3 separate regions of the Homo sapiens genome follow, and regions 2 and 3 are each linked to region 1. A link means that fine-mapping ties the variant in region 1 to the expression of a gene that starts in the linked region. Tissue or cell type: whole blood. Region 1 holds a variant in brackets; each other region holds the start of a gene. All regions are shown on one strand. Distances are from middle to middle.

Region 1 (8,108 bases):
GAAAAGTCATCTGTACAGGCCTAAACAAATGAGCTTTGTATTTCTAACATAACAAGAAGTCTGGAGGTAGGCAGTTGCCTGAGTCAGTTCAGTAATCCAATGATTTCAGGGCCAGCTTCTTCATCATTTTCCTGGCCAGAATATAGCTACCATGGCTCCAGTCACCATGTCCATGTTCAGGACAAGAAGGAAGACTGGTAGAGACATTCTACTTGTGGAGTCTTGTCTTTTTATTAGCAAGAGAGCCTTCCCTAGTGGACTTTCCCTTTGTCTCCTTGGCCAGGATTCAGTCATGTGCCCACTTATTGGCCAATCCCTGAGGAAAGAAAAGAAAATTACTATGACTGATTTAGACCAATTTCAGCTCATTCCTTGTTGTTGAGGTAGGGGTCTACCCTTCCTGAAATCAAGGGATCTCTTTCAAAAACCTGAATACAAATTGGAGTTTTGTTACCAGGGAAGAAGAGAGAAACATTTCTTGTTTAGACTAGGCACAGTGTCTGCCTTATGTGCCAGTGGATCAAAAAGTGGCTGCACACCCAATTCAGGGTGGGGAGACTCCTGAAAACTTAGTACAAAAAGATTCACAGAACTCTGCACATTAAACTAGAAAGTTGTCCCTGGCTAATCTTGTACTCCAGTATCTCCATTGCAGAGTCTTATGTGGTTCTTTCTTTCTCACTGCAAACTAAAGATGAAGGATTCTTTTGGGAGGCTGAAGTGGGCAGATCACTTGAGGCCAGGAGTTCGAGACCAGCCTGACCAACATGGTGAAACTCCGTCACTACTAAAAATATAAAAATTAGCCGGGCATGGTGGCAGGTGCCTGTAATCCCAGCTGAGGCAGAAGAATCACTGTAATCCCAGCTGAGGCAGAAGAATCACTTGAACCCGGGGGGTAGAGTTTGCAGTGAGCTGGGATCATGCCACTGCACTCCAGCCTGGGTGACAGAGCAAGACTCCGTCTCAAAAAAAAAAAAAAAAAAAAGGATTCTTCAGCCAGTGCATAGCCCACTGCAATGGGTGGTCTCCTGCCCTTTTTCTTTTTCTTAAAATTTGTATTATTTTAATTATTTTTATGTACAGAAATCTCAACAGTGTGCATTTAACCCAGTTTGGTGGCAAGTTCTTTAGCCTTTGCCTTTTCAAGCTTGGCAATGCGAGCCACAGATTTGGGACCCAGGACATTGCCTCCCCAGTGACGGCAGATCTCATCGTATCTGTTGTTGTAGTTGGTCCTGATAGCTTCCACTAGCTTAGCCAAAGCTTCTTTGTCTTCCAAGTTCACCTGTGTGAAGGTGACAGTGATCCAGGTCTTCCTGTGGACTATATGTCCCAGTCTTGCCTTCCTCTTGATAATGCAGGGGAAGAGACCCCCATTTTATGACACAAGGCAGGTAGGAAGACAAGCTTGATGGGATCCACATCATGTACAGTCACCACCAGCTGAGCCTTCTTGTTCTCCACCAAGGTGGTGACGGTGTTAACTCCTGCTTGAAGGACAAGTGGTCTCCTAGTGGAGATGTCCCCTTTGCTGCAAGCTTTCTTCTCAGCCCGGACCAACAGCCTCTGCTTCTTCTCTTGCTTTGTCTTTCTCTTGTTTGGTCTGTAGTTGTGGGCCAGCTGAAGCAACTGAGTAGCTGTTTGGTGGTGCAGGGCCTGGGTGAACTGGTTAATTTCAGGATGCACTTTCAGCCACTTACAGAGGATGACTCTCTGCCACTGCAACCTGATATAGTGGGACCATTTCTTGAAGCAAGTGAGGTCTCTTTTGGGCTGGATGTCCTGTCCAATGCCAAAATTCTTAGGCCTTTTCTCAAGCAGGGGATTCACCACTTTCTTAACCTCCTGCTTCATCACGACAGCAGGGGCTGGAGCCACCTTATTCCCCTTGGCCTTCTTTCTTTTCGCTCCTGCCCTTTTTCATTCTTTCTCAGCTGCCAGAGCCTCTTAAGGACCTAAGGAAAAAAATAGCTAACATCTTTTGGGCTCTTACTGTGTGCTGGGCACTGTGCCGAGCACTTGGATACTATTAGTTTCATCCTTATTTTATACTTGAGAAACTGTAAGTTAACCTTCTTAGCCTGGGGCCACAATCTCTCAGGAACTGTGGACTGCTTTGTTTCCCTGGTTAGGAGCTACCAGTCTACTATTTGGTTCTTCCATTTTCAATAAGCTCAGTTTCTTCATCCCTATCACTTTATAGTGTTTCTCAGAGTATTCTGGAAAGGCTACCATGTAAGTATAAGCTGACCAGTCATACTATTAAGTGGCAAGGCCAATTCTTGACTTTCAGAGTCTGTGCTCTGAAAAACTGTGTTTAGCTATCTAATCCCTCCAAAGAGAAGGATAGTAAAATGGAGATTGAGAGGGCTAATCTAAATATCCAGCGCTTGGCGTTAAACCTTACAGACTGCAATAGACAGCAAATGTAAATTTAACAAGGCCTTTCTGAAGATATAATGCCTGAAATTTAATGCTAATAGGAGAGTTTTCATATTCTGAGGAATTTTTGTGGGGCAGCTCTCTGGGGGACAAGCATACAGCTTGTCCAATAAAAGCCTTTCAGGCGACTTCCTTCAATAAAAGCCACATTAGCTCTCAAAGAAATAATAATATAGGTGATTATTCATTTTTCAAACATGTCCTTGAACTTATCAGAACTGTACCTTTACAGAGGAATAGGAATGGGAATCTCATGTTAGATGGAAACCCTGCTTCTTACAGGTGACATAAAATGAAACACACCTATTTGAACATCATTTTTTTAAAACCTTATTTTGTTTCTTCGATGTTTTTATTGAAGCTGAAAAGCTTTTTCTGAGCAGTAAGTGACCTTGACGAAAACTGGCTTTGCTCTACAGATATTTTAAAGTTATAATGGTCAGATGGACACGCCTGATTGATACTGTTTTCACACCCAATTCTCTACTGTTTATTTTAATGTGCATAACTTGCTTGCATTAGCTTGTGCGGACTCTAACTGACAGTGGAGCATTCTGCAGTGATTTTTTTTATGGCAGTCTTCATACAAAAGTACTTTATAGTATGGTTTGAGCCAAGTTTGTACACTAAAAACTAAAAGGACAGTTAATGGGTGCAGCACACCAACATGGCACATGTGTATATATATGTAACAAACCTGCACATTGTGCACAAGTACCCTAAAACTTAAAGTATAATAATAAAAAAAACTAAAAGGACTGTTATTTTTTTCAAGATTGAACTGGAGGAAGACTCCAGGGCACTGCCCTTCCAATGCCAAGCAGTACACCCATCTACACTCTGTCATCATTATATGTAAACATCATTTAATGAGTGCTTTCATGGAAAATCGCGTGAAGAATGTGGAAGAATTCTTTTTTCCTTTTATGTTTTCACAGAATGTAAGGGCATAGGAGGTTTTGCCACCTCAAATATGGTCTTGTTTTTGCCGGCTTATTGATTTAGGAATGAAAGAATAACCTGGTTTGGGGTGTGGATTTCTAAGCATTTGATCTTTTGTTGAAATACCATTCTTATTTCATGATGTTCAAGTATTTTGACAGCTTCTTGTTAATGAGGGTACTGGAATGAGGTGGGGTGGGGATCAGGACTAAGCAGCATATCAGAGGGTATATTTGCCTTTTCTATACAATCTCAAAGTAGACTCTTGTTCTCAGATTAATTTTCTTTCTAGAGGAGGAAATACATTTGAATTTCCCACAGTATAGTTAAAGAACTTCTGTTTCATATGCAAAGTATAGCACAGAACTTAAAATAAAAATTTCCATTTGTATGCTTATGCATCGAAGTATGCAAAGACTGGTTCAATAGCTAACAGAACTAACAATAAATGCCTTTTTCAAAGGGTTACCCATTGGAGCTAGGCTATTAAAAGAATTGTGTTCTACTGCCAAGTATCTGAGCTTGCCTAAACATGCTACACTAGCTGTGAATCATTTTAGTAATAATGATGTATAGCAGAAAATTGTAATATATATAAGGAGCTTTAAGGGACTTTTTCCTCGAAATGCTCTCTAATGTAATACATTGGCCTACAGCATAGCCAGTATTATCAGAAAGGTAACAAAAGAAGAGAGGCAATGTATATTCTTTCACAGGAAGCTA[G/T]CCACTCAAAGAGTAAAACAGGCTCATGTTTTAATGTTGGTGATTGCTGGTTAGGATGTTTACTTCTGGAGAGAATCTTCAGATTGTCTCTGGTACAAGAACAGAGATCCATAAACTGGTAGCATTTAAATCACAGGTTAAAACTCCTTCATTCTCTGAAAATGTTCTAAAATTGGATTGTGGTAATAATTATACAATTCCTGTCCCATTATGTACAGAAAGAACATTTAAATCATTCATTCAAAAAATGAAATGAAAAATTGCAATCAGGAAAATTCTCTCAGTATCATGAGACATATTGTGAACCAATATCTGCCTCTTTTTTTCATGTCCAACAGTTTCTTTGTGGGAATCCAAATGAGAGAAAAGAGCATGTTGGTACCAGACACCTTGAAAGATAATTATTGGGCTATTTTGGATACTCTTACTTAGTTAAGCTCTGTTTATAACATTTTAGGAATTATCCAATAAAAATAAATACCCCCCACTTAGCAAAATACAGATTGGACATATTGGAAAGATTATCCCGTATTTAGTGCTAGGAGATGTGTGGATGGCATATTCCTCCTCTCTTCTTGAAGCCATTTCCCTCTGCTTTGTTCAGTCCGACCTCTGCCCAAGTCACATTCCCCTAACCCCTATTGCTGTCATACCATGCTTTCCCTCTCTTTTTGGCCATCTCTCTTCAGGCCAGTTTTCCCTCTAACCTTCAAGATGCCAAATATTCTTTGCTGCCTTCTCCTAGCTTGAACTATTTGCTAGGGAGTTCTCCTCCCTATGGTAAAAATAAGGACATCTCACTCTTCAGGGCCACAGTATCTCTATTTTATGAGAGGATAACTATAAGTTTGGTGGGATATAGTTTCTGGACCTGCTCCCAGCTTTGATCTTTGCCATGAATAACTTCTTTTGAACACGTGTGACAACTTGATTCTCAAAACAACAACCCTGAGAAGTGGTTATGATTGTTATTCCCATCTTAGCCCTGGGGAAACTGAGATCTAGATATATCATATAACTTTCCCGAGGCCACACAAACTAAGACGTAGCCAGGATCCAAGCCAAAAGGTTTGATACAGAATCCATTCTCCAACCTGTTATTCTATGCTACCTCTTTGAAATAACATTTATGGACTCCCTACTATGGGCTGTCATTGTACTAAGTAACTTAATACAATCTCTCATTTAATTGTTAAAACTGCCCTATAATATTAATATCAATATTTTTGGTCAGTTTTTTTTTCTGTAAAGTGAGGCTAAAATACTAGTAACCTCATGTTGCCTCAGTACTTCATCATGTCTGTATTATAACACATTATATTTAATAACATTGTATTCCTCAACTAGAAAGTAAGCTCACTGAGAATTTGTCTTACTCACCTTTGCATTCCAAGTACAAAGTATGCAGTCTGGCACCTAGTAGGCATTTATAAAATATTTGAGGAATGAATACATGCTTCCTTAATATGGTAAATGAGACAGTGTGTGATAGTGCCATCCAAACTTCATTGTTATGCAAATGCTATATATGATTAATAATAATCACCCATCTAACTATGCTTAATAGGAAGTAAGATACTCTCCTTTACTGGGTGAGATCTGCATTTTTACAGTGGTTTCTTGAATCATTGCCCTTGTCTGTGCTTCCTGGAAGACCAAAGGTAGACTGTTTTCTGAATATTTCCAGGGAAAGAGAAAACCACCTTCTTTTGAAGTTCTATACCCTATTTAAAAATCTAACCCTAATCTAAACATTAGATTATCTCTAATTTTATGTTTAAAAATTTTAAGCCTCCCAGTTACAAATGCCAGTAATGTGCTGTCTTTATCTACAGAATAAGCATCATGAATAAAGCGCAAATGTATTGTAGAGAGCTGGAAGAGCCTCAGACACCAGGCAAGTAAATCAAAACAAAGTATTGTTAATGATTACCCTGGATACTTTAAGAAGAATGTAGAAGATCAATAGATCTACAGAACATTAATCCTTCTAGAAAATGTGAGCATCCTAGATTTTATTTGTTTAAGATTGATACAATTGAGTTATATTTTTGTGAGCCTAATGGAAGAGAATCATGTCATCTCTCAGGAAAGCAATCCTCTCAGCTGTGCTGACCAAGGTTCCTCTAATTCTTTCAACCAATGAAGTAGTTGATATATTCTTGTAAACTTTCTGCGGGCAATTTGTCCATTATTGGGCCTGAACTTGAACAGTTGGAGAAAGAAAGAAAAATTAAACAACTCCTCTTACATCAAAATAATATAACTGAGTCTCGTTTTAATAAAATCCTAGAGCACATCCTAGAGTCACCTAGCAAGTAACAGGTACTCAATAAATGCTCTTCTAGTAAATGGATGAAAATCTAAATTTGTGAAAAAGATCAATAAAACTGTGATCATTTACACTCCCAAAAGACTTATCTGCTCATTTGGTTTAGAATGCCGACTTTAAATGTGGATCTTTTCACTAGTATTACGGAATAAGAATGTGAGCTTTTTCTTTTGAAGTTACTTAGTCCTTTTCCCCATCTACAGGGTTATACTTATCACCTCAGCAGCTTATCACTTTATCTATCATGCATATGAAGAGAGGGCTTCTAGTTCCTGAATTTTCATAAGTACCAATACCTAATTTAAAAAAATAAAAATCTGCTGGACCACCATGATATATAGATTTAAAATGTGCTTTAATGTATTATGACTTAGCATACGTAGCTTTCCCTCCAACATCTGTATCCTGATTTGTAGTCTAATAAACCTTCCTGCTGCAGATGGCACGTTCATAGTTGTTCTGAGGTGTAATACATCAACATAGCATTTCTAAACAGAGAGCAATAATGAATTCAATTAGGGGAGGAAATAAAACATCGAGCCTTTTCTTATAATAAATCTTTTACTAAGCTTCCCACATCACATGTTTGCTGAGGAAATAATACATGTCATTCAGATTAAGGGTTATTGTAGACTGCTGAGGGAAACATGAAATTCTGGAGGTTTCAGCAGTCCTGTGAAACCCTGAAACATGGAAAGTGTACAAATTAGAAAAGGATGTAATATGTGACTAATGATACCTCTTGGGATACCTTTGGAAACCATATTTACTGTTATGATCACTAGATTCATTTAAGCTACAGGAGTTGAAAAGCAATACCCTAGTAAGTGAAAAACACCTCTGAGTTCATTAGATGTGGTTGTAATTTAAGCTCTAAAGGCCTTTTTCCTTGCTGTCATTCTTTATATTTCTGGAAATGTGGTACTTGAACTCCTAATAAAAGTAGTCTACATCATGTTCATATAATCTACAGTTCCTGGAAAGCACATTTACACCTCCACATCTGTAGCTAAAGCTGGGACAGAACAGAAACTTAATTCACCCCAGATGTCACCCACTAGAAGTTCTGGAGTAGGGCTGCTGTTCTTAGAATTTTCTATCCACTGATTATGTCTCAAGCAATGGTTTAAATATTCAACCCAGAGTCTCCAAGCCCAAATGTTGTAAACTGTTTCCATATACTATGCCAAGTGCAAAATTAATTGAATTCCACAAAGTTAATCCCCAATCCTGTTCCTTCATTTGTGGAAGGAAATAATGGCTATTTTGACATTATTTAGACAGATAATTCCAAGTCCTTTTGTCATAAGCATCTGAAAAAGAAATTTTGTTCTTCTGGCTTGGTAAGGTATCAGTCCATACTGCTTATAAAAAGATTACATGACAATTTCTTTGGAAAAAAAAAAGGTATATGTATATCATTTGGGCTGCTGATCACCAGCATAGCATGTGATGAATCAACATAATCAGACAGTCAATTTCTGTCTAATGATATTCTTAATCTGCAATAATATTCTTCGTTCTTTAGCTTTGAATTCTTCTACTCCTCAGTTGGTATGGAATCAGTGTTCCCATCCCCAGGTCATATACTTGATTGGAGGGGCTTTAACGGACAAAATAAGATCAGTGCTTTAACCATAGGCTTCTCCACAGTGAGCAGAAATCG
Region 2 (8,108 bases), 200 kb before region 1:
TGTTGCCTTCCCTCTAGCAGTTCCCACATAGAAACAGATCAATGACTCTTTAGAATGAAAGAGAAGAAAAACCCAAAGAATCAATGTAGCAAAAAAGCCTGGGGCTTCCCCTCTGAATGAGTGGGTTCTGTGCAGGCAGTAGGCTGCCCTTGGCACTCCCCTGGTCTCTGCATCCCTAAACACAGTCTTGTATAGCAGAACACAGGCTCACCTTTCTCAACTGCTGCTGTGTTGCCCCTTCCCTATATTATACACTGTCCCAAGAATAATTCTGCTTCGTGTTCCAAAGAAACACATGGGCTGGAAACAATAGGAGGAAGAGACGTGTGTTCTGTTCCCTTGATGGTATGAGGGAGGCTGCTGTGGCTGTCTTGAAACCCTCTAGGCTGCAACTTACAGAACTCTGGCACCTCTTCTGAAGACTCCAAAATCACGGGGCAACCCCTTCCCTTTCAAGCCAGCCCTACTTTCTCTGGGATTGTTTCCTGGGGCTGAAAGAGATTCCCAGATTGAAAGACTGTCCAAAGTGAAGGAGACCTGGAGGCCATTTTGGTTCAATCTTCTTAATTTACAGATGAGAAAACTGAGGCAGCCGAATGATCCTCCCTCCACCGTTCCTTAAGTTAATGAGTACGAGGGTGGAATGCAACCTTTAGTCTCACTCTAGAGAGCAATAAGAGCACAGACATCTTTCCTCTTAGGAAGATATTCTGCCAGGAATGGAGGTATGCATCTAAGCTTACACTTGACCTGGACGGTCACAGGTGTGTACAGCCAGAGAAGAAGGATGGGTTCTTGCCTCATGGGCCATCAAAGCTGCTTGGGGAGATTTTGTAACCAAGCCACCCTAGTCATAGAGCTCAGACAGGTGGACTGGCCACTGGGCTCAGGAGGGGACAGATGTCAGGGCATCTCGGAGAGCAGTGGACTCCCCACTATCCACAACGGTCATAATCCCAGGATGACTAATTCTGTCATGCTTGCCCTGCTATTTCCATGGTGGTGGCTTGCCTCAGACCAGGGCAAGGATGAATGTGCCCCGGAGGCCGGCAGAGCCAAAAAAAGGACCCTGGTTGCAGCTGATAAAGGTGTAGCGCCTGTGCAAGGGAGATATTGAAATTGTAATCTTTGAGGTCACGTGACTCATTAAATAATTAATGCAGATCGTCAGGAATGGATCGGAGTCGTCAGGGCCTCACTAGGAATGAATCTCTCAGAAGTGAGATTCCAACTTACCATTTGATTTTTAAAAACACACACCCTCAGATTTATCTCCAAAGGCTTTTAACTCCTTCAGGAAGGCAGGAGAGAGCCCTCGGCAGGGAGGACGGAGCTGGCAGGCCCTCACCAGATCTTGGGGCCTTTTCCGCAGGGTTTCTGCGAGTCCAGGGAGCGCGCCGCGTCCGGGGAAACGTGAGTTCGGGCTTGGGTTTTCTGCGGTCACATCCTGGCTTTGGTGATGAAGTGGGACGGATGCGCAGACAGTTGGTAATGTTCTGATTCACGCTGGGGAAGGCTGCAGAGATACCACAGGACGGGCGCGCGGCTTTGTTCAATTTTCCCGGCGTTCATAAATCACCCGCGCCGGGCGAGCGAGGGAGCAAGCGAGCGCCAAAAACGCGGAGAGAGAGGCCACGGCGGCGGCGGCAGCCATTGTAAAGTGAGAGACCTGGGCAGCATCTCTCTGTGACTCATTAGTCTGAACGATTTATGGGGTACAGCAGCCATGAATATTAGACTTGGAGATAAGGAAACAGCAAAAATAATAACCATAATAATTACATACTCCTAAGTGTCACGCAGGGGAGTGGTGGGTGGCGGCATAGCGGATCTTTCTGGAATGAAATTGAGAGGCAAAGTGCAGGATGGCTGAGTCCACCTTGCTCATGGTCATGCCAGGAGCCCCAAGACCAGGGGGCACTCCCTTTGGGGACACAGAAAGCAAGTTTGAACAAGAGAAAGGGGGCGCAGCGCGCAGCGTGGATCCTGGGTCCTTTTCCTTTGGTTTGTGGGGGCTACGGGTCGAACTGTGGCAGAGCGCAGCTACCGGTGTGCGGCCACTTGTTCCACGTGCTAGGGGGCTCCGAAGCCAGGGGTCAGGGGACTCCTCAGCTATTTGATATCCCCTCTTAGCGCTATCTACAGAATTGCGTGAAGGCAGACAGACAGCGGAGGGCTGGTTTGGGGCAGGCTGGGGTAAGAGGTTACCTGGGTCTGAGTGAAGGGGTAGTCGGGGCAGGGATAGGTCTGTAGACGCAAAGGGCCCGCAGAGTCCCAGCGGAGCGCAGAACTTCTCCAAGCCAGGGTCCGGCGAGCGGACGATTCTTTCCTCTTTCCCCATCATCTCCCACTCCCAGAAAGCTGACTGCCGGCTCGGTGACCATTTGCTGGTTAGAGGGCAAGAGAGGGTTGCAAATACTGTGAGGGACGAGATTTGAGCAGAATCAAGGCATCAGATCGGCTTGTGGCCGTTGCGCAAGGCCAGGCAGGAGCAGGGCCCCTGAGCAGGTATTGTACCAGCCGGCGTCCCTCTCAGTTTCCAGCAGCCTTAGCTGGCCTGCTCTGAGGGACTAGGTGCTGCGGTAGCCCCGCCAGCCCACTAGGACCTAAAAGGAACGCACCCAGAGTTGAATAAACCAGAACACAAATCCTCCCAAGACTGCCTCTGGCCAGTGGAATGAACCCGGGTCTGATTTCGCGCCTACAGAAATGAACACATATTAGTGAGGTTTCAGGAGAGTCCGTGATTGAATGCTCCCAGACAAGGCTTCCTTTTGTTAGGAAAGGAAAATAAAGCAAGCATTCACATTCTCCAAGTTGTGGTGCCTGAGGAGAGAGCTCTCTGAAAGCAGCCCACACCACCAGCAAAGCCACTTCCACCTTCTCAGCTTCCTCTGTTTGCTTCATGTCCTTTCCTTCCCCACTCCCCCGCCAAAAAAAAGAAAGAAAAAGGAGAAAGTATGGGTGTGGAGATGGAGTATGTATTTATTTTACAAAAATAAATCACCATCTTCGGACCATTTGTAGACTGGAACATTTCGAGCAATGAGTGCGCCACACGGACGAGTGCCCTGGTGACTCCCTGATGTTCGCGTCACCCCCAGGGCCACCTTGGCGCCCGCATGAGCCTCGCTTCCCACTCCCGGCCTCCAACTCCCTTCCCTCGCAGCCGCCATTCACCTTCTGCTGTTTATTTGTCTGCAGAGCGCCTGGACACCGGAAAAGGCGATTCCCTGAGCGCCTGGAGTTGGAGACAATTCCTGGTTCAGAATTTAAACATCTTTCTAGGTAAGCGCTGCTCCAAAACTCTTCGCCGCGTGGGACTTTGCACCAGGGCGGTTGGGAGGAGTTGGCCCTCCACGGTTCCTGGCAACCGCGGCCTGTTGAAAGAGGTTCTGGTCAATATTTAACTTCGGAGGAGTTTGGAGTTGGATTCCTTTAAGCTTCTTGCCCTGCGAGTGCGGGGCCTCAGGCAGACAAAGAGCCTACCCCAAAACCAGCGATGGGCAGGAGAAGCGGTTGCAGAAGGCAAAGATGGGTTGTGGAGAGTCAGAGGGAGTGTGTTTGTTTCTTCCTGCAAGCCCCAAACAAACCACTACACTGAACTTCAGGGCAAAAGCAAGTAAAGGCCACGGGCACGGGCGCGGCGGCCGCTGCGTGGGCTGCTCTCTTTGTCGACTAAGGCGACTGCGGAGGCTGTGAGTTAAGAAATTGTCGCCAGTCCCAGCTCGCTGTTGAGGAAAACTTGTATCACACTCTTGCAGTTTCTTAGACCATTTTGCCTTTCCTTCGGCATGAGAAAAATTGCTGTATTTCTAACCTTTAGGCCTTCGCAGACAGCGGGTCTTCTTCCTTCTTTCATCAGGGCTCATCATCGGTTCTTCCTACGGGAAAAGCGTGGTTTTCTATGTCTTGGCGTTTCCTTTTCCTATTTGAAACAAGGGAAAACTCTTTTAAATTATTTTCAAGTTCTGACTTAATTTGTCCTCTTAGTTTGGGATGCAGGGAGGTAATTACTGTGGTTTATTACCTTGTAAAAGATCCATAAATTACATGCCTGTTTGGGGGAGGGGCTGCTGGAATAGCTTTCAGAAGCATGGTATGAAGGAATGAGTTTGCTTTGTTCTTTCAGGAATTACTTCTTTTTAAAAAGTTTTGAGATTTTGTATTCTATTTCCTAGGCCTCCAGTCTTCCCTTAAATTTGCTCCCAAATAGATATCAGGTTGTTAATTAATTGCAACATGATATTCAGTCGTGCTATAAGGCTGATATGGTGTTCTGGATACAATTATTTTTTCCAATAGAAGGTAAACAGAGCAATAGTCAAGCTGTGTTACTTTCTCAGCTACTGTATGTCTGTTTATATCAAATATAGATGGAACATTTCAGGAATTTGTAACTCTGTGTATATGATTTCCATCTCAGCAAACAACAGAACAATTGCATGTATAAATAGTTGCAGGAATTTGGGGCCTTGTGTATAACACAATATACACATCCACACGTGTCCAGAGAACTTGGCCCATTTCTCTACTGCACTTGCACCCACAGGAAATATCTCATGTTAAATAAGAATCTATCATACACACACACACACACACACACACACACACACACACACACACGCACACAGTGGGCTAAGAGAGCCTTACCTGATGCTGAGTAGAAAATCCACTAGATTTAAGTAATGGGACAAAAATGTTAAGTGTACTTTTGACAGAGAAATCAGATTGCAGTGTTTGAGTACAGATATATCTAATCTGCCAACAGCCTTGCAAATATTGGCTAACGGTGTGTACCCTTGGTTGCCTGCTTTTTCCAAGCCAGCTTTCCCCCTATTTTGGCTCTGGTGACCAGGACCACAGTATCAGTCCCAGCGCAGGCCAAGTTGGAGGCCGGTGAAGTGAGTGAAGAGGGACTGGCAGCTGGGTTTTTAAAAGGCCCGTAGCTTTGCTCCAGGAAACTGGATTGCAGAGTGGCAAAGGAGGACTGTCAGCTGCTGGTTCCCCAGATAGGCTGCCCAGGCCAAGATCTCTCATAGAGAAGCTGTTTTTTAACCTCAAAAGTTAAATGTCTTTTGACTTTTCAGATTTTTCCCTTCTCATCCCACCAAATCACCCATCCCACCCCAAGTCATTAATGTTAATTGTTAAACAGCAGTTGGAGCATTAACTGGATGTTAGCAGCCGTTTGGAGGCCCCAGGCTGGAGCTGAGATGCCTCTGAGCTTTGCTGGCGTTAAGGCATTTCTCTGAAGCAGTACCAATGACTTATTTCATTGATTTATGGCTTTTTTTTTTTTTTTTTTTTGACAGAGTCGCGCTCTGTCCCAGGCTGGAGTGCAGTGGTACGATCTCAGCTCACTGCAACCTCTGCCTTCTGGTTTCAAGTGATTTTCCCACCTCAGCCTCCCGACTAGCTGGGATTACAGGCATGCACCACCATGCCTGGCTAATTTTTGTATTTTTAGTACAGACGGGGTTGCACCATGTTGTTCAGGCTGGTCTCGAACTGCTGACCTCATGATCCACCCACCTCGGCCTCCCAAAGTGCTGGGATTACAGGCATGAGCCACCGCACCCGGACAATTTATGGCTTTAAGAGTTTTCATTTGCTCGACTGTTCCAAGAGCTTTGAAGGGGGCCCCTTCTCATCTTTGAGTTGATGCCTCTTCAGAAACTTGGGGGTAGGGAGGAATTTGCCAGCAATACCTCCAGGTCCCTTTCTAGGGTATCTGGAGAGCTCAGTGTGAATGATTGGTGAGGGGTATGAGGCAGGCAGCAGTAAGAATGAGAGGAGTGAGTTCTTGGGGGTCAGGAGAACGCTTTTTGGAAACCAGCTTCTACTCCTGTCCTCTATCCCCCAAACCTGAGAGAGGCAGGTTTTCACTTGGAGTTCTTACTTTCCAGCTTGTAACTTAGATAGGAGCTGGAAAAGTTCACATGGAGGTTCTCTTCCAGCTACACCACAGATTGAACCTTACTGAAATATTGTCACCAGCTTAGGCCAGGACTTGCTTCCAGGGGATTAGGTCTCTTCTTTTATTGCCTTTCTGATTTGGACAACCCATGAACAAGTTCTCTTATGAAAGGCCTTACATTTTCATCAGACCCCTTCTGTTCCTCTGCAGGGGAGGAGTGAAGGGGAGGAATCATGCACAGCCTCCTGCAGCTGCTATAAGTGAGTCCTCACACTCAGGCATAGCCAGCTGAAGACCCATTCTCCAGGAAAAAAAGAATATGGCCTGAGGATCTCACTAGCCTCAGAGCACTCTCAGAAGTTCAGAAACTAAGACCAGAAAAGAGAAGATTTTTAGACAGCTCATGAAACGGTACAATGTTGAAATTAGTGGGCAATGTCATCAGGCAGAAGGCAGGAGTAGGGGTGGAACCAAGGGTGGGAGCAGCTTATTTGTTTCAGTTAGGTTCTTCCTGAGCACAGTTGGTTCTCTACTGGTTTTCTGCTCAAGATTATTTTGAGAGTTCTGAAGGGGGCTCTTTCTCATCTTTGAGTTGATATCTCTATAGGAACTTGTGTGGGGGTGGGGAGAGAATTTGCTGGTGGACACAGAATTGTCTTGGAAAAGTGGGTGGACAGACCTGCCTGTGGAGAGGGTCCCAGATTGCCTTGTTAACTTAAGGCACTCCAGTGAAGGTTGATTCTTTTTCTTTTTTTTCTTATTTTTTTTGGGGGGGGGGGTCTCTTGCAGAGCAATTAGATCATTTCCTCTGATATTTTTTATGTTTAGAAACTTATAATTCCATGTATCACTCAGTTGTGCACTGAGGAAATGCTTAAGTGCAAGTTTAGTCAGGGCACTAGGTTTCTCTAGATTTTGCAAAACCCGGACCCACCACTCTATAGCCAAGCACATCTTTCCTAGTGGGCTCCCACTGAACAAAACCAACTGGACTTGGAGGAGATGCTTTAACCTTTTGTCAGGTAATTATGTGCCTTTTTGGTGTTTCTTGCGTCTGTAGTGTATGGTGTGGGTGTTAGCAAACTCCATACAATGGCAGGCTGTGAGGAAGTCCGCTGTCCAGGCCAGTTATTTCTGGGCCTGCCCCTTGCCTTTTGATATACTGGCCTGTGGGCCAGAGGAGACTGGGGTGCATGGGTGTGCAGGATCCAGCTTGTCCGTGGGTGGGAGGCTGTAAGGAAAGTTAAATGGATTCTAAAAATGTGAATAGCATTGCTGTAACCCTTGTGTTTGGAGGGTGTGTAAAGAAATATAAGTGGAGATAAGCTTGTATGTCTTATATGGCATTCATGGGAGGATGGCTCCAAGCATCCTATTGCTTAGACAGAACTCTTAAACTCAAAACTGCTGGTCAAGGTTCCCCACCTACCCTCCCCCAAAGCTAAATATTCTGTTTGGAAACCTAGTTCCTTCAGTGGTTCCCTATTTCAAATAAAAGGATTTAAGTTGACGTATGACCACGTGAGCACATAATACAGCGCATTATTGTGGCATTTGGAGCGGAGACCCAGACAGGCTTCGCCTGTGATTACGTTTTCTAGATTCTCTACAGAGCCAGAGCTTTCCCCCAACCCCCACGCACCCACCTCCTCCTTCTCCTTCCCCTTCTCCGGAGAGCGCTCTCTGAGCCGATTGCAGTTTTCAGCACTCATGGAGCGGTTCTGGGCGAGCTAGCCGATGGAAGTCGAGGCTATACCAGGAGGATGGAATTTATTTTAAGGTATTTCCGCCGATTGTTCATATCTAGAGTGAGTTATGGCTGTGAGAGACAAAGGTCAGGCGAGGAGACCCTGGCTCATGGACAGGACCCTCAGCCTCTCTCTTCCTTTGTTTCTCTTTTAGAACCGAAACCATTTGAAAGATTCCCAGTAGCGCCTCAGACTCTGAATTTAATTCCCTGGAAAGTGTTGGGGGTGTAAAGGAGGGGGCACTAGGGGGGCTCCTAGGTGGGCCCAGTGGCCCCCAGTGCAAGGGTGGCTTTGTCCACTGCAGCAGGGCAGGGCTGGAGTCTCAGGAGCTGATCCCCAGGCGGAAAGAGGGTCCAGAAGCCAGGTGCAGGCAGAGGTGGACCGGCTTGCAGGGCTAGATTGCCTGGGAGGGGTGGGGGATGGGTGGGTGAGAAGGGGAA
Region 3 (8,108 bases), 56 kb after region 1:
TCCACCACATCCTCCACTGGTCTTGAACCCCTCAAAATCATCCCTGAGGGTTGGAATCAACTTCTTCCAAACTCCTGTTAATGTTGGACATTTTGACCTCTTCCCATGAATCATGAATATTCTTAATTGCATCTAGAATGGTGAACCTTTTTCAGAAGGTTTTCAATTTACTTTGCCCAGATATATTAGATAAATGACTATCTATGGCAACTATAGCCATATAATATATATATATATGTATATATATATGTATATATAGGTATATATATGTATATATATGTATATATATATGTGTGTATATATATATGTATATATATGTATATATATGTGTGTATATATATATATATATATTTTTTTTTTTTTTTAAGATAGGGTCTCATTTGTGGCCCAAGCTGGAGTTCACTGGCACAGTCATACCTCCCTGTAATCTTGAACTCCTGGGCCCAAGGGATCCTTACATCTCACCTTCATGAGTAGCTAGGACTACAGGCACACACCACCACACCTGGCTAATTATTCTTTTTTTTTTTTTTTTTTTTTTTTTTTTTGTAGAGATGGGGTGCCACTATGTTGCCCAGGCTGGTCTTGAACTCTTGGCCTCAAGTGATCCTCCTGCCTCAGCCTCCCAAAGTGCTGGGATTACAGGTGTAACCCACCATGGCCAGCCATGAAATGTATTTTTTAAATAAGACTTGAAAGTTGAAACTACTCTTTGATCCATGGGCAGCAGAATGGATGTGGTACTAGCAGGCATGAAAACATTAATCTTCTTGTATATCTCCATCAGAGCTCTTGGGTGACCAGGTGCATTGTCAATAAGCAGCAATATTTTGAAAGGCATCTTTTTTTCTGAGCAGTAGATCTCAACAGTGTGCTTAAAATACTCAGTAAATCATTCTGTAAACAGATGTGCTGTCATCCAGGCTTTGTTGTTCCACTTATAGAGCACAGGCAGAGTAGATTTATCATAATCCTTAAGGGCCCTAGGATTTTCAGAATGGTAAATGAGCATTGGCTTCAACTTAAAGTCAGCAGCTGAAATAGTTCCTAAGAAGAGAATCAGCCTGTCCTTTGAAGCTTTGAAGCCAGGCATTGACTTCTACTCTATAGCTACGAAAGTCCTAGATGGCATTGTTTTCCAATAAGTGTTGTTTCATCTACACTGAAACTCTTTGTTTAGTATAGCCACCTTCATCAGATATCTTAGCTAGATTTTTTTTTTTTTTTTTTTTTTTTTGAGATGGAGTCTCGCTCTGTCGCCCAGGCTGGAGTATAGTGGCGCAATCTTGGCTCACTGCAAACTCTGCCTCCTGGGTTCACGCCATTCTCCTGCCTCAGCCTCCCGAGTAGCTGGGACTACAGGCGCCTGCCACCACACCCGGCTAATTTTCTTTTTTTTTTGTATCTTTTTTTTAGTAGAGACGGGGTTTCACTGTGTTAGCCAGGATGGTCCCGATCTCCTGACCTCATGATCCGCCCGCCTCATCCTCCCAAAGTGCTAGGATTACAGGCATGAGCCACTGCACCTGGCCTTAGCTAGATCTTTTTGATAACTTGCTGCAGCTGCTTCACCAGCATTTGCTGCTTCACCTTACAATTTTATGCTCTGAAGATGGCTTATTTCCTTAAACATCATGAACCAACCTCTGCTAACTTCCAACTTTTCTTCTGCAGCTTCTTTACCTCTCAGCCTTCGTAGACTTGAAGAGAGTTAGGGCCTTGCACTCGATTAGGCGTTGGCTTAAGGGAATGTTATGTCTGGTTTGATCTTCTATCCAGAACATGAAAACGTTTCTTTACCAGCAATAAGCCTCCTTCGCTTTCTTATCATTCGTGTGTTCACTGGAGTAGCATTTTTACTTTCCTTCAAGGACTTTTCCCTTGCATTCACTACCTGGCTGTTTGGTGCAAGAGCCCTAGCTTTTGGTCTGTCTCGGCTTTCAATATGCCTTCCTCACTAAGCTTAATCATTTCTAGCTTTTGATTTAAAGTAAGCTTTTGATTTAAAGTAAAATGATTCTTTTACTGGAACACTCAGAGGCCATCGTAGGGTTATTAATTGGCTTAATGTCAATATTGTTGTGTCTCAAGGAATGGGGAGGCCCAAGAGAGGGAGAGATATGGAGGAAGGTATAGGGTTGGTAGAGCAGTCAGAACACACACATTTATGGATTACAGTCGCTGTCTTATATGGGTGCTGTTTGTGATGTCCCAAAGTAATTATAATAGTAACTTCAAAGATCACCATAACATATACAATAATAATGAAAAAGTTTGAAATATTGTTAGAATCACCAAAATGTGACAGAGACATGAACTGAGCACATGCTTTTGGAAAAATGGCGCCCACAGATTTGCTTGATGCAGGGTTGCCACAAACCTTCAATTTGTTAAAAAATGCAATATCTGGGAAGCACAAAGATGTATGCCTGTTAAAGGTTTTAAAGAAGCCATTTTTTTTAAAAGAGAAAACTTTTAAGAAGCTTTACAGATAGAAGACAGTAAGTATTTGTTGACTAAATGGTCAAGTTGGAGTGAGCAGATTTTATAATTTTATTCTACTAACCACCACCAGCAATTTTATTTTTGATGCTTGTAGATGGACAGTGGTGCCAATGTCTATTCGGCCTTCTGTTTTTTTGTTTTGTTTTGTTTGTTTTTTCCTGCCAAAGGACGGTGCTTAGAACTTCCCAGTCTTCCTTGTAGTGGGGAAAATCTGTCACCCCAAGGATACGAATTAGGTAGAAAAGTAATGTAAGAGCCAATCACAACGCGCGCTCCGGAGCGGCTCCAGACTGGCTTCGCCCGGACGACTGGCGGAAGACGAGACTTCGTTACCTCCGTTCAATCGGACAAAGAAGGCCATAATAGTTTAGGACAAGAGAAAATTCCTTGTGGGTTAAACTGCGGTGGGACTGACTGTTACGCAGAAGGCGTAATCGCAAAACTTGTATACACTCTGTATCATGGATACATTATTTTCTGGAATCCTGCAGAAACGATCAGCAGTTGTGATGGCACCAGTACCGAAAATGGCTGTAAGGCGCTCCGGACGCTGGATCAGGTGACGCAGCATCAGGTGACGCAGCCTCAGTCCGCCCCCTTCCCACCAGTGGCTCCTCCTCCTGCTTCCCGGCGTAGCGGTGGGCGTGGCTTGCCCACAGGCTCTTTCTTCTGGGGCCGGGAAAACCGAGGAATACACATGCGCAGTTGGACCCCTCAGGCCCTTCGTGTCCCTTCCCACCCATCTCCCCGCCCCGGCCCTCTGGGCGGGGCTGGGCCGACAGTCCAGCTGCAGCTCGCTGGAGATTCAGTGACTTCCTTGTTGTGAGCCCCGGCCCGGCAGTGTCCCGACTCGTAGCCCCGCTGTTCTTAATCCGGGCCGCTAGCCTGAGTCTAGGTCGCAGCCGCAGCCCCACCCCGTCGGTCACCTTTTCAGCGCAGGTCCTTTCCCCGCACGCCCTGCGCTCCCTAACATGCCCAACCCCAGCAGCACCTCCTCTCCCTACCCCCTCCCTGAGGAAATTAGGAACCTGTTGGCAGGTAAAGAGCGGGAAGGCGGCGATAATGCTGTCGGGGCGGGGGCGAGGGAACGGTGAGCCGGTGGGGACAGAAGCATTCAGAGCCCTTATCCTCCCTCCCCGCGCTTCCCACGTCTTCTAGCCAGTGGGGTCGGCACAGGGAGGAGAGGAGAGGGGTTGTTTTGTCTCAGAAAGGGAGTGGACGTGTGTGTTGAAATTTGGTGCGGGGATGGTGGCGAAGCCCTTTTTGGTGATCTACACAAATGGGATCAGGACGTTTCTATGTGCATTGTGAAGACGGTGTGTGTGTGTGTGTGTGTGTGTGTGTGACAGAAGGGCGGGGGAGGAAGAGTGGAAGAGGGAGAGAGAATGATAATGATAATGAATGCTGCGTGAGCAAGCAGAAGGGAGCAGAAGTCAAATAAGTAGTTCTTGGGTGGTCTGGCCAATGGAGGTAGAGGATGTAGAGATGCAAAGAGCTGTCAGAGCCACAGGTGTTAGGGGTTATGGGGTGAAAGAGTTTGTCATTTCTAAAACTCCCGTTTTTCTTAAACATTCAGCTCACTCACGTTTAAGACTTTTGAAGAAGGTCTGGTTCTCAAATGGCCACTTGTCCCCAGCCTCAGTAATATATTAAAGCAAAAAAGGAAGGATATGTTAAAGTTCTACTTCCTGTGTGACACGATGAAAGTACTTCATCTTTGTACCCTTATCTTCCCTTTTTCAGTTTTACATTACCATTTATAGGAACTTATTTTAGGAGCTAAAAACGTGGTTCTTCAGTAGCATTATGAATCCACTACTAGTTCATTAATTTACTGGATACGGAGGTGTGTATGTTCACTAAGAACCAATAATTTATATTTCTGTACAAGGTAGAAAATATATGTTTTTAAGGTAGCACAAATCTTACCTATCTCAATGTTCTGGAATTTCAACCATCATTTATTTTGTCTTGTGTACGTCAGAATTCTGGAAACTGAATTTTGATTTTTAGTTTTAGATGTCTATAAAATATTTATCTCTCAGTATTGCTTATGAATAACTAGATTACAGATTGCTTATTCTAGCTCTTAAAAAGCAATGTCATCTAAAATGTGACATTTGATGACACATTTTATATGTTACTCCTATAGCAATGTGAGTCCAAATCTCCTAATATTCTGTCATTCAATTTTGGTGCTTGGCATTATTAATATGGTAGTGTAATATTAAGTGTATGAATGTAGACTTATGTTTGTATGATTATGGTACAGTATGTTGAATGCATTTGTGGTGGGATAGTCTTTCACTCTAAGAAATGCTTGTTGTCATTAACGGGTACCACTAAGGGAAATAGTTAAAGAAGTCTAAAGACTGACTTCAGGCAGCTTTATTGCATCACATGACTACTGATTTTGTTTTACTACACTTAACATTTTTTGTTTTTACAATGCTGGAATTGTTTGTTCAGAATATTATTGTAATAACCAGCGCAGAAAAATGTTTATCATTATTCCAAAAATAGATGAAACCATTTTCAGGATATTCTATGTCTGTATTTTTGAATTTAAGAAATAACATATAGACCTCTGGGTGCATGTTTTAAAGCTTGGTACCTCCCATAGTACAGTTTGTTATTTGGATCCATAATCATAAATCACAGATAATATGATATGTAGGTCATGAGAACCTTTATTCTCTTATCCCCATAGATCACAAGTATTTCCTGTGGCCCTTATTTGTGTAATTTAACTAAAAACTCAAAATTACATATTTAAATTATCTGCCAATGCTAACTTCCAATATATTTCTGCCTTCTCTCTTTAGTCAGGTAATATACTAGCATAGCATCTGAAATTATTTTAAGTCATTTTATTGACATTTTCACTATTTTATATTATTAAAGCAAATCACATATTAAAACACACATGAAGTATTAAAAAATATTACAATTAAAACTTTTGGAATTGGAAATTTGGATTACACTTTATTTTCAGAGGATATTTTCAAGAAGTATGGAAGTGAGTTGGGGCGTATTTATGTTTAAAGAAATTTAACAAATCAGTGTTTTTCAGGTTTTAAAAAAACTTATTTGGAAAGTTGCTAACATTTTATGTTTGACTGTAATTAAAATCTTTTTTGAGGTAGAGAACGCTTCAAGAATAGATGCTGTCAGCAATTGTTTCATGTATTTCATCTAAAAATATTGTTAGCATTGTACATGATTCTTTTCATAATTCAAGTGTATTGGGTAATAGTATATGACTAGATTTAGAGTAACATTATAGAAGTATTTATATTGGTTTGAATATTAGAGATATTGCTGGCTTATTTAGTCTATTTCTTTGAAACTGAGGAGATATTGGTAATGGTGTTGTAGTTAACAGTTGAGTGCTCTTAGAATGCATGGTACTATGCTAGAATTCCAAGGTAGAGAAGATAAGGAACTAAACTTTTCAGGGGTTTAAAGTCCTTTGTTTTTAGAAAGAAGAATATATAATCAAAAGATAATGACTGTTAAAATAATGTTGCTTAGATGTATCTGTTTGTGTTCCATATGCCTATTAAACTAAATCATTATATGTCATATGTACTGTTTGAAATTTCACCTGCTTAAAAGGGATAGGTACTCAAGTGTATTCTTATTTATTATTTTTCTTTCTCTTTATTTTTCTGTCTGATTATGGCAGTTCTATGCTATACTTTCAACATTTGTTCCCTCTCCCTTTTTCCTTCCCCTATAAAAACCATTCCATAGAAATGTAAAAAAAAAAAAAAAAAAAAAAAGAGGTTGTTATTGTTAACTCACATGTGTTGTGTAAAGATACCATTGAAAAAGTGGCTATCTAGTTTGATTTTTAGTTATATTTTCTGTGGAGTCAGTCTTGAAGACCTATGCTTTTTATAAAATGTTGATTATTCTTTTGGTTATATGAACAGAAAAGGACTTACAGAATTTCGTTGTTGAAAGCAAATTTTGAGCTGCCATATGCATTACAGGCAACCTTTGATTTTTTTCTTTTCTACAACAATGGAAAAACAGGTTTAGCCTGGATAATTGAAATCAAAGGACAATCCCAAATCTTGTCCATTTAATCTTCTCTCACATCCAAATATTTTGACTAGGACTAGCAGCAAGAATAATCTTGATTTATGTGATTTTTTTTTTTCTCTAGACAGGCAAGAAAGTAAGAGGAACTAGAACCACTTCCCTCCAGCCTCCTTCATTTGTTTAATCACCCTTTAAATAATGGTTTGTTAGTGGCTTGCAATCAGACCTTCTCATTCATCCTCATTCATTTGTTTTAGGACAACAAATTTTAAAAGGAAAGCTCTAAGAAGATGTTATTTTCTGTTTACTAAATTAGCAAATGAAACCATTGTTAAAAGAAGAAAATAGTGATTGTTAGTGCTCTGAAAAATCAAACCAAACCAAACAAACAATAAATAAGTGATCTTGAGGTTTTGTTCACATGGCACTCTTGATTAGAAATACCACATTTTCCCTACTGGGAATTTTTAGAACATTAGAAAATTTTTTCCCACACATTGATTATAATGTGTGAATATTTTTTTCACACAATATTATTTAGGGTATGTAATCAGTCCCCTAAAGGGATTCCTGTAGGGGCACTAGGTGAAGAGTGCAATTTATTTGAAATAGAGGCAGAATTTTTTCAATGCTGAGTATATTACGGTTTAATTTCCACCTTTCCAAAGTTCCATTTATAATTTGGTCAACATTTTGGTTTTATTTTTCCTATGAGAATTATTTATGGTGTATCTAGTGTCCCATAACTTCCTTCTGGGACATTGGCTGAGTATGTAAAGGGAAGAGTGCCACCTACTGAGTCACCAATAGTCACCTACCTCCTTAGCACCTGGGTTTTCCTATGGAGCAAGAACAAGCCTGCCCCATTTGGGCAGCAATCACTAAAGAGCATAAAGTTGATATGAGAACATTTAATCTCAAAATGAAATCTATCGTACCTCCAAGATATTCTTTTCTAGAAATAGGAATATATGTAAATTAAGGGACTAGAGGTTTACAGAGTTTTTTGTATGGGCTAAATAATATAGATGAATTAAGATGTGGTGTTAGGAAAATTATTTGCCTATTTTAAGTATATAATGTCCTGCTTTTTCTTGGGAGGAGATCTTTTGGCATGGCTGTCCATTGAAAGTATTTTCATCTCATTACTATATAAGGCTCTTGATACTACGTACAGTTTTTATAGCTACCCAATCCAAATTATCATTGGTTTTCTTCAAAAAGAAGAATCTAAACATATTAAAAAATTAGCATTATATGAAAAATTTGCAAATGGGCTTATTGCTCCTGTTACCAGCATTAAAGTATTACTAGAAAGAAGGTAGACACAACAGAGTAGGAAAAGCTGCTGGTGATTTGAAACACAGTTTAGTTGTCTCATAAATTTCAGATTAAGTGTCATATATGGGTGATAAAAGTGGCATAGGCTAGATTTTATATACTCATGATTCACTTAGTTTGTCTTTTTCAATTAAAGCTAAGTCTCTTTTTCATTCCACTGAATTTACATTTCTTTTTCAATCACATTCTGAACACATTACAATAGATGCTGC

What was found. PIP is the estimated chance that this variant, and not a neighbour inherited with it, causes the effect.
Region 2: HOXA-AS2 starts here. The variant in region 1 is fine-mapped to the expression of HOXA-AS2 in whole blood (TOPMed, PIP above 0.99).
Region 3: SKAP2 starts here. The variant in region 1 is fine-mapped to the expression of SKAP2 in whole blood (INTERVAL, PIP above 0.99).

The regions. Positions count from the first base shown.
Region 1 is chr7:26,915,910-26,924,017 of GRCh38, reverse strand. It overlaps the pseudogene RPL7AP38. Among named protein-coding and RNA genes, the nearest start is that of SKAP2, 55 kb to the right of the region's middle. The variant G/T (reference allele first, on the strand shown) is at 4,111.
Region 2 is chr7:27,117,739-27,125,846 of GRCh38, reverse strand. HOXA-AS2 (HOXA cluster antisense RNA 2) reads right to left here and starts at 3,928. Exons shown (of 4, transcript NR_122069.1): 1 at 3,821-3,928; 2 at 3,181-3,380; 3 at 2,209-2,387. It overlaps HOXA3 (homeobox A3), which reads left to right. Exons shown (of 6, transcript NM_153631.3): 4 at 3,205-3,288. RefSeq lists enhancers at 979-1,776, 2,576-3,373, 2,952-4,151.
Region 3 is chr7:26,859,798-26,867,905 of GRCh38, reverse strand. SKAP2 (src kinase associated phosphoprotein 2) reads left to right here and starts at 3,316. Exons shown (of 13, transcript NM_003930.5): 1 at 3,316-3,543. The coding sequence starts at 3,477. RefSeq lists an enhancer at 2,749-3,078.